2 linked regions of the Homo sapiens genome follow. The protein of the gene in region 1 purifies or fractionates together with the protein of each later gene. This does not show direct contact. Each region holds a gene or a part of one and is shown in the gene's direction. Other genes may lie near its edges. The genes, in order: NAA16 and TCEA1.

Region 1 (3,826 bases):
TAAGTATAAGATTGTTTTGTTGGGGGAGGGGCAGAGGGTTAGTGTTCACCTTTCATGGAAGGGATTAGTTCTTAACCTCTTTTGGCCATGGATCCATTGAAAATTGGATGAAAGCTTTGAGCTCTCTCCTTAGGAAGAAGTTTTTATGCTTGTTTATACATAGACTCCAGTTTCAGAACTTCTGCTAAAATGGAATGTAGGTAGAGTAAGAGAAAACAATAAAGTTCTGTATTTATATAACAGTTTACTGTTGAAAATGAACTTTAAAATACATTATTTGATCCTTTAACAACCTTAAGAAATTGGCTGTATGGATTTCTTTATTCTTAACTTAGATTAAATAATTGTCTAGGAAATTAAAAGGCTTATTCAGGGTCGCATCCCTAATAAGAAGCTTATCTCTTGAGTGGGCAAATACTGTGCTTACTGAATGTCTGCTATGTATTAGGCCCTGTGGCAGGCGGTGGGTAAGGATTGCCCTTGAAAATGGTAGAGTTGAGTAGAGCAGTCAGATTTGTAAATATTTAGTGTGAACCTACACATATTTAGTCTTCATTCAGAGCTCTGTTTAACTGTGCCATGCTGGTTTTTAGGGAATATGGAGGAAGAGTATTTCATTAAAACTAAAATATTAATATATACTAACTTTCAGGTTTAAAAAATAACCTGATCTTTTGACTTATATAGAAGTTGAGTATCATCACAAAACATGATTTGTAGGGAATGGGCATGGTTTGTAGGAAGAGAAAGTTCAAGTTGAATGCCAAAAATAATTCATATCCTTTATAGTGTAAAACATTGGAGAGGGCAGCTAAGTGAAAATTGTGACTGTTTAAATTGTTTTTTGGGCTTTTTACAATTTTTTTTTTCTAAAGGTAGACATTATTGACATAAATGTAAAGGTTAATTTTGTGATTTTTGTTTTTAAGCATTTTTTTGAGATAACTGATGACCAATTCGACTTCCATACATACTGCATGAGAAAGATGACCCTTCGTGCCTATGTTGACCTTTTGAGATTAGAAGATATACTCAGAAGACATGCCTTTTATTTCAAGGCTGCTAGATCAGCGATTGAAATATACTTGAAATTGTATGATAATCCCTTAACCAATGAAAGCAAACAACAAGAAATAAACTCAGGTAACTGAATAGGAACTTAAAAGATTTTAAAAGGACACTAAATTTCAGAATGCCATTAGCGTAAACAATACCTAGAAAAATATTAATATATTGTCTGTTGGAGTTGAAGACAAACATTAGATAACTCATATGCCAAAAAACAAAAATGTTGCAGAGAGAGTTAAAAAAAGTGGGATGATATTCTGTAGCTGATGGTTCTAAATTACTTTAATGGAACAACTTAGAATTTTTTTTATTTTTGTCTTCAGAAAGACCAATTTAAGAACTGGGTATGGTGGTTCACGCCTGTAATCACAGCATTTTGGGAGGCCAAGGCAGGCAGATCATTTGAGGCCAGGAGTTCAAGACCAGTCTGGGCAACATAGCATGACCCCTGTCGCTACAAAAATTTTAAAAAGACGAGTTTAGGAAACATAGAAATGTCTGTGGACTAGTTTTTTTCTTTCTTTTTTAAAAAATTGTAACTGAAAATAGCTTTGAGCTCCTTAGGAAAAAATATATAATCTTAAAATTTCTAGTTCCTACTTTATTAAAAATAAGAATATCAGTGAGAATATCTGTACAGTTTTTTATTCACTAGAATGTTAATATCTAGGAATATTTGAGAAATAGTTAGCATGAAATGAGCCTAGGTAACTATCTCAGATATTCCTAGGTAGCTGTTCATTTCTAATATTTATATAGTATTTAGAGATCACAGGTGTTTATATGTATTATCTCACTTATTCTTGAAAGACTTGATACTGAGAAGGACAAAGTGATTTGCCTGGAGTCATATATTGTGTAGGAGGCAGAACTGGGCTACTATTGGTCAATTTTAGTTAATGCAACATTTACTGGCTGTCCTTTGTGTGCCCAATTTTGTTCTAGTCACTGGGGATACACTTTCTAAAAGCTTTTATATGGGTTGCCTCTGCATCCCTCCTTGCCCAGACAAAAAACAGAAAAAAAAAGTATACAGCTGGCCCTCCATTTTTGTGGGTTCCACATGGGTGGAACAAATCATAAATATGTTTTTTTAAATTGCATCTGTACTGAACATGTCCAGACTTTTTTTCTTGTCATTATTAGTATTTCCTGAACAATGCAGTGTAACAACTATTTACATAGCATTTACATTATTTTAGGCATACCTATAGACCATAATATAATTTATGAAAAAGTGAAGTCATTATATGCAACTTAAAGCAAAAGGAAGGTGAAAGATTTAAAGCTGATCTAATTAAAAGTATACAGGAGGATGTACATAGGTTGTATGGAAATACTGTGTCATTTTATATCACAGGCTTGAGTATCAGTGGACTTTGTGGGGGTGGGGGTCATGAACCAATCCCCCACTGATACCAAGGGACAACCATACTAACAGTATGTATTACAGAAGAATATGAAGAAAATGCAAACATTGGCTCAGAATTTTGTTCATTTGGATATTTATAGAAAACTTGTCAGCCAAAGAATTGAAGAAAATGCTTAGCAAGCAGAGAAGAGCTCAGAAAAAGGCTAAACTAGAAGAAGAAAGAAAGCATGCAGAAAGAGAACGTCAACAGAAAAATCAAAAGAAAAAAAGAGATGAAGAAGAAGAAGAAGCCAGTGGCCTTAAGGAAGAACTTATACCTGAAAAATTAGAAAGGGTGAGATGGGTTTTACTATCTTTGTTATTTGGTAAAATTTATGCTATTTGGTTCCGTTCTGACAGTTAACATGATTTATTTAAATCTGTAAGAAGCCATTTGAAATATTTCAAGGTTTTTATAATAGCCGTCAATTATCTTTGAGTGACAGTATACAAATTTTGGCTAATGCAAGTTATACATAGAATTGCAATTGTGGTAGGCAGAGTAATGGCCCTGCAAAGGTGTCTGTGTTCTGGTCCCCCCAGCCTGTGAATATGTAACCTTACATGGCAAGGGAGAATTAAGGTGGGAGATGGAATTTATGGTTGTAATGAATTGACCTCAAGATAGATTAGCCTGGATTGTCCATGTGGTCCTAATATCGTCAAAAGGGGCCTTAAAAGTTGAGGATGCCAGCAGCAGAGGTCAGAATGATGCAATGTGAGGAGGACTCAACCTGCTGTTGCTGGCTTTGAAGATGGAAGGAGGGTGCCCCAAGCTAAGGAGTGTGGGCAGTCTAGAGAGGCTGAAAAAGGCATTGAACGGATTCCCCCTTCGAATCTCCAAAGGAAATGCAGTCCTGCTGACACCTTGATTGTAAGCCCAGTGAGACTGTGTTGGGCTTTTAACCTATAAGAACTATAACATAATAAGTGTGTTGTTTTAAGTCAATAAATATTTGGTAATTTGTTACAGCAGCAATACAATTGTCCATTACATATGGAATCATTTTACCTTATATGTCTTACTAGAAATGTTGTAGCTACAAAGAGATAGCACCTCCAGGATTTTCTCAAGTGTTAATAGTTGTTTTGGGATCAGATTTAAGGAAATATTTAGTTTTCTGGTTTATTCACTGTAAGTCTAGTACAGTTGGCCTTTGAACAACATAGGTTTGAATTTTGAGGGTCCAGCAAAGGATGGTTTGATAATTTTAGAAAGATGTTTGGGTTAAAAAATGTCCAGATAACAGAAGAATTAACTTCTCACCAAGAGCTGGCAGAGAAGTTCCAGATGCCATTGAGAAAATCATTGAGGAGAAGAGGTATCTGCCTGAACAGGTTTTTAAT
Region 2 (3,826 bases), on another chromosome or scaffold:
TGTAGGGAGATGCTTGCTGCAGCTCTTCGAACAGGGGGTAAGTCCAGTGCATGTTATTTCTCAGTCCTTTGGTCACCACCCACAACCACTGCCATCTCCAACTCCATATTGCTGTTTGATGAGTGTTACCCTGTGGATAGCCCACCCACTGCTGCTTAGCTTGGGGAGAAGTTGTTGCTGATACGGGTCTGTTAAGGGGGAGAGGAGGAGGAATACTGGGGCATTTGCTTATTACTATGTAATTGTAAGAAATAGATTCCCTCTAATACATGGATGTTTTCCCTGATTTCATAGTAATGTACACTTTTTTCTCACAAATCTTTTGTTTCCCCACAATTTAATCTGCAAACTACATACCCTGATCTTATATTGAGAGTTAACAATACTGAATTGTTGAATAGTATGACATATAGTATGAATGTTTTCCATTTTCTAGTTAGAAAAAGGGAGGGTGAGTCTTGATTTATATATGGGAGCTTAATTTAATTTGAAAGTATCCAGTCTTAACATGTAACATTTGGATTTAAAGTTTTATATACAGGAATATTTGTTATTTTATACGAATTCATCCTTTTTCTTTTCTCTCATTCTGCACCATGGCTAGTTTGACCTGATTTTCTCCTTACTCTGCCCTTTCTACTTTGATTTCCTGACTGTCTCTTTTATTTTTTCTGCCTAGTTTATTTCCTTCTATCCTCTTGCATATTTGTATAGCAGTCTTCTGAGTGTGTCTGTATATGTGATTGGCAGATTAACTAAATGATTTCTTTGCATTGAAGCCTGAGTCACAGGAGACTAGACAGTTCTTTCTGTAACTTTCTCTACTCTGCTGGAGCAGCCAGAATTTATGGAGTTACGAAAAATGAATTGCCTGCTAGATCAGTTACTTCCTGTGCCTGAGGGATCAGGAATCATCAGTGCAGGAGCACTGTGGGTATCAGGTGAAGCCCAGAAAAGAAGTCTAGCGGGCAGTGAAGTGATCAGATTCTAACGAACTAAACTGAACGGTTTCTTTATGTCAGGCAAATGGGGTTTAAGAAATAGGAATGCAGTTTAATTACCTGGTATTAGAATTTTCTTTTAATCTGTTACAATAATTTGACAATTCTTTATGCCTATTTTTAGATGACTACATTGCAATTGGAGCTGATGAGGAAGAATTAGGATCTCAAATTGAAGAAGATATCCTTTGTGTGTATATTCATAATTGTTTTTTTTAATAAGTAATATTTATTGAACATATGCAAATGCCAGGCACGGTTTTACATGCAGTAGTCCTTCCAATGAATTAGGTGCTCTCATCCCATTTTACAGAGAGAAAACAGAAGCAGAAGAGGATTGGTCATTGTTCTAGATCACACAGCCTGACACTGACAGGGCTGGGATTCCATTGTAGGGAATTTGGCTCCAAGCCCATGACCTTGACCACCACGCTAGACTTTTTCCTTCATGTTGAAGCTGAATGAACTAGAAACAGCGAAGTTTAAAAGGACCTGGCTCTTTGGAAACTGAAACATATAAATCCCTAGTAAAATTGCTTCAGATAGCAGGAGAGTGAAAATATGATTGAGAACAAGAAAGGCAAACCGATAACATAATTAGAAGAGATTACAAAATACATGAGAACATTGGGTGTATCTCGTTGGCAATTTGAAAACCTAAAGAATTTCGCTTTCCTAGCAAAACATGAGTGTCCAAGATTGACTTTATGTACTTGGCAGGACAGGCTGTGTTATATTATGGTGACAACCTTGAAATTTCAGTGGCTTAACACCACAGAGGTTTCTTTCACAGATTAAACTGGACAAACAGGAATGTATTTGTCCTATATGTTCATCACAGGCTAGCTGAGGACTCTGGGCTTTGGGTCATTGTCCTCTAGGACCAGGCAGGTGGATTGGCCATTGTGAGTGGTGATGTGGCAGAAGGTAAAATGGATAAATTGCATACTGGCTTTCAAAACTACTGCTGAGGAGTGACATCTATTACTTCTGCTACCAGCCAGAAAGGTCTCTTGGTGTCACACAACTTCAAGTGGTCATAATTGTTTTAAGTAATCTGCTAGCTTAATTTTTCCTGTTGGTATAGAATTCAAAGTCTTATTCTTCACTTTTTATCTTGATTGTATTGTTTTCTTGGAAAGGAGAGGGACATCTATGTCATTTTATTTGTCTTGTTTTTCCTGTTATTGAAAAGGAAAGTACAGTATTGATGGCATTTATGACATTTAAATTTTTCTGCCTTGTAGATTGAGACTGTAGTGTCTGAATTTAAGTTGTGCAAAAGGGCATGGAAAGCACACACATATAAATGTGAAGACTTCTCAGTTAGGGGGACCTCAGAGCACACACAGTCACCTGAGCTCATTATCCCAGAGGAAGCGTGTTCTTGCTAAGCACCGGGAAAGGGCTCCAGGAGAGGGGTACTGTGTGTGAGTAGGGGCAGGGAGCATCTAGGTGGCTGTGTAACATGAGATTGTCCTGGTTGAGGAAATGGCCTTATTAGGAAGGGAGCTGTTCCAGGGTTCAGCTTTGGCAGTGGCCTCTTCTGCAGAGAAGAAGAGCCTGCTGAGGTAGCTCCTGCTGAGCTGGGGGAGGAGAGGAACCCTCACGGCCATGCTGAATGGTCTCTTCTCAGAGACCCTGTGGGAACTGTGTGACCAGAGAGACTTTAGGATCCTTAGTAGAATTCGGATTTGGGCAAGTAAAGCTTGAATAAGTTCAAGCTCCTTTTCAAACATGTGCTTTCTCATGTTGAGTACTTGAGTTACTTTTTGAAACCCTGTTGACTTGCATACTGCTGGCACTAAACATTTAGGAAATAAAACATGACTAGGCCGGGCGCGGTGGCTCACGCCTATAATCCCAGCACTTTGAGAGGCCGAGACGGGTGGATCACCTGAGGTCAGGAGTTTGAGACCAGCCTGGCCAACATGGTGAAACCCCGTCTCTACTAAAAATACAAAAATTAGCCGGGCATGGTGGCAGGCGCTTATAATCGCAGCAGCTACTCGGGAGGCTGAGGTAGGAGAACTGCTTGAACCCGGGAGGTGGAGGTTGCAGTGAGCTGAGGTCCAGCCTGGGTGACAGAGTGAGACTCCTTCTACCCACCTTCAAAACAAACAACTACTTTACAGTGTAAAAGTAATATCACTATTATTCGCCAATTACAGCTCAAGGAATTAGATATAGTACCTTGTTTTTAACATACTCTAAATTGGAAACAGTTGTCGTGAATTGCTTAGAAATTTCAGGTTTGTTTTTTTTTTTAAGATGGAGTGTCCCTCTGTCGCCCAGGCTGGAGTGTAGTGACCTGATCTCAGCTCGCTGCAACCTCTGCCTCCCAGGTCAAGTGGTTGTCCTGCCTCAGCCTCCCGAGTAGCTGGGACTGCAGGCACCTGCCACCATGCCTGGTTAATTTTTTGTGTTTTTAATAGAGACGGGGTTTCATCATGTTAGCCGGGATGGTCTCGATCTCCTGACCTCGTGATCCACCAGCCTCAGCCTCCCAAAGTGCTGGGATTACAGGCATGAGCCACCGTGCCTGGCCTCAGGAATTCTTATTTTGGCAGAACAGGAAAAAAAAGTGATCTTACTTTTGTAATTTTGCCTTTTTTCCTTAACGGCCTGGTACCTATATATCAAGAAATAAGGAATACAGACATGAAATACAAAAATAGAGTACGAAGTAGGATATCAAATCTTAAAGATGCAAAAAATCCAAATTTAAGGAAAAATGTCCTCTGTGGGAATATTCCTCCTGACTTATTTGCTAGAATGACAGCAGAGGTGAGTATGTGTGAATCTGAGGTTTCTATAATGTGATT

What was found.
Region 2: the proteins of NAA16 (region 1) and TCEA1 fractionate together in Homo sapiens (co-fractionation; one large-scale study listed by BioGRID). This does not show direct contact.

What each region holds. Positions count from the first base shown.
Region 1 is NC_000013.11:41,366,510-41,370,335, forward strand, and holds part of NAA16 (N-alpha-acetyltransferase 16, NatA auxiliary subunit), read left to right. Parts: intron 1-929; coding exon 930-1,143; intron 1,144-2,580; coding exon 2,581-2,774; intron 2,775-3,826. UniProt on the Homo sapiens protein: Auxillary subunit of the N-terminal acetyltransferase A (NatA) complex which displays alpha (N-terminal) acetyltransferase activity.
Region 2 is NC_000008.11:53,984,325-53,988,150, reverse strand, and holds part of TCEA1 (transcription elongation factor A protein 1), read left to right. Parts: coding exon 1-37; intron 38-1,125; coding exon 1,126-1,182; intron 1,183-3,633; coding exon 3,634-3,788; intron 3,789-3,826. Other genes in the region: LYPLA1-TCEA1 readthrough, read left to right, coding at 1-37, 1,126-1,182, 3,634-3,788.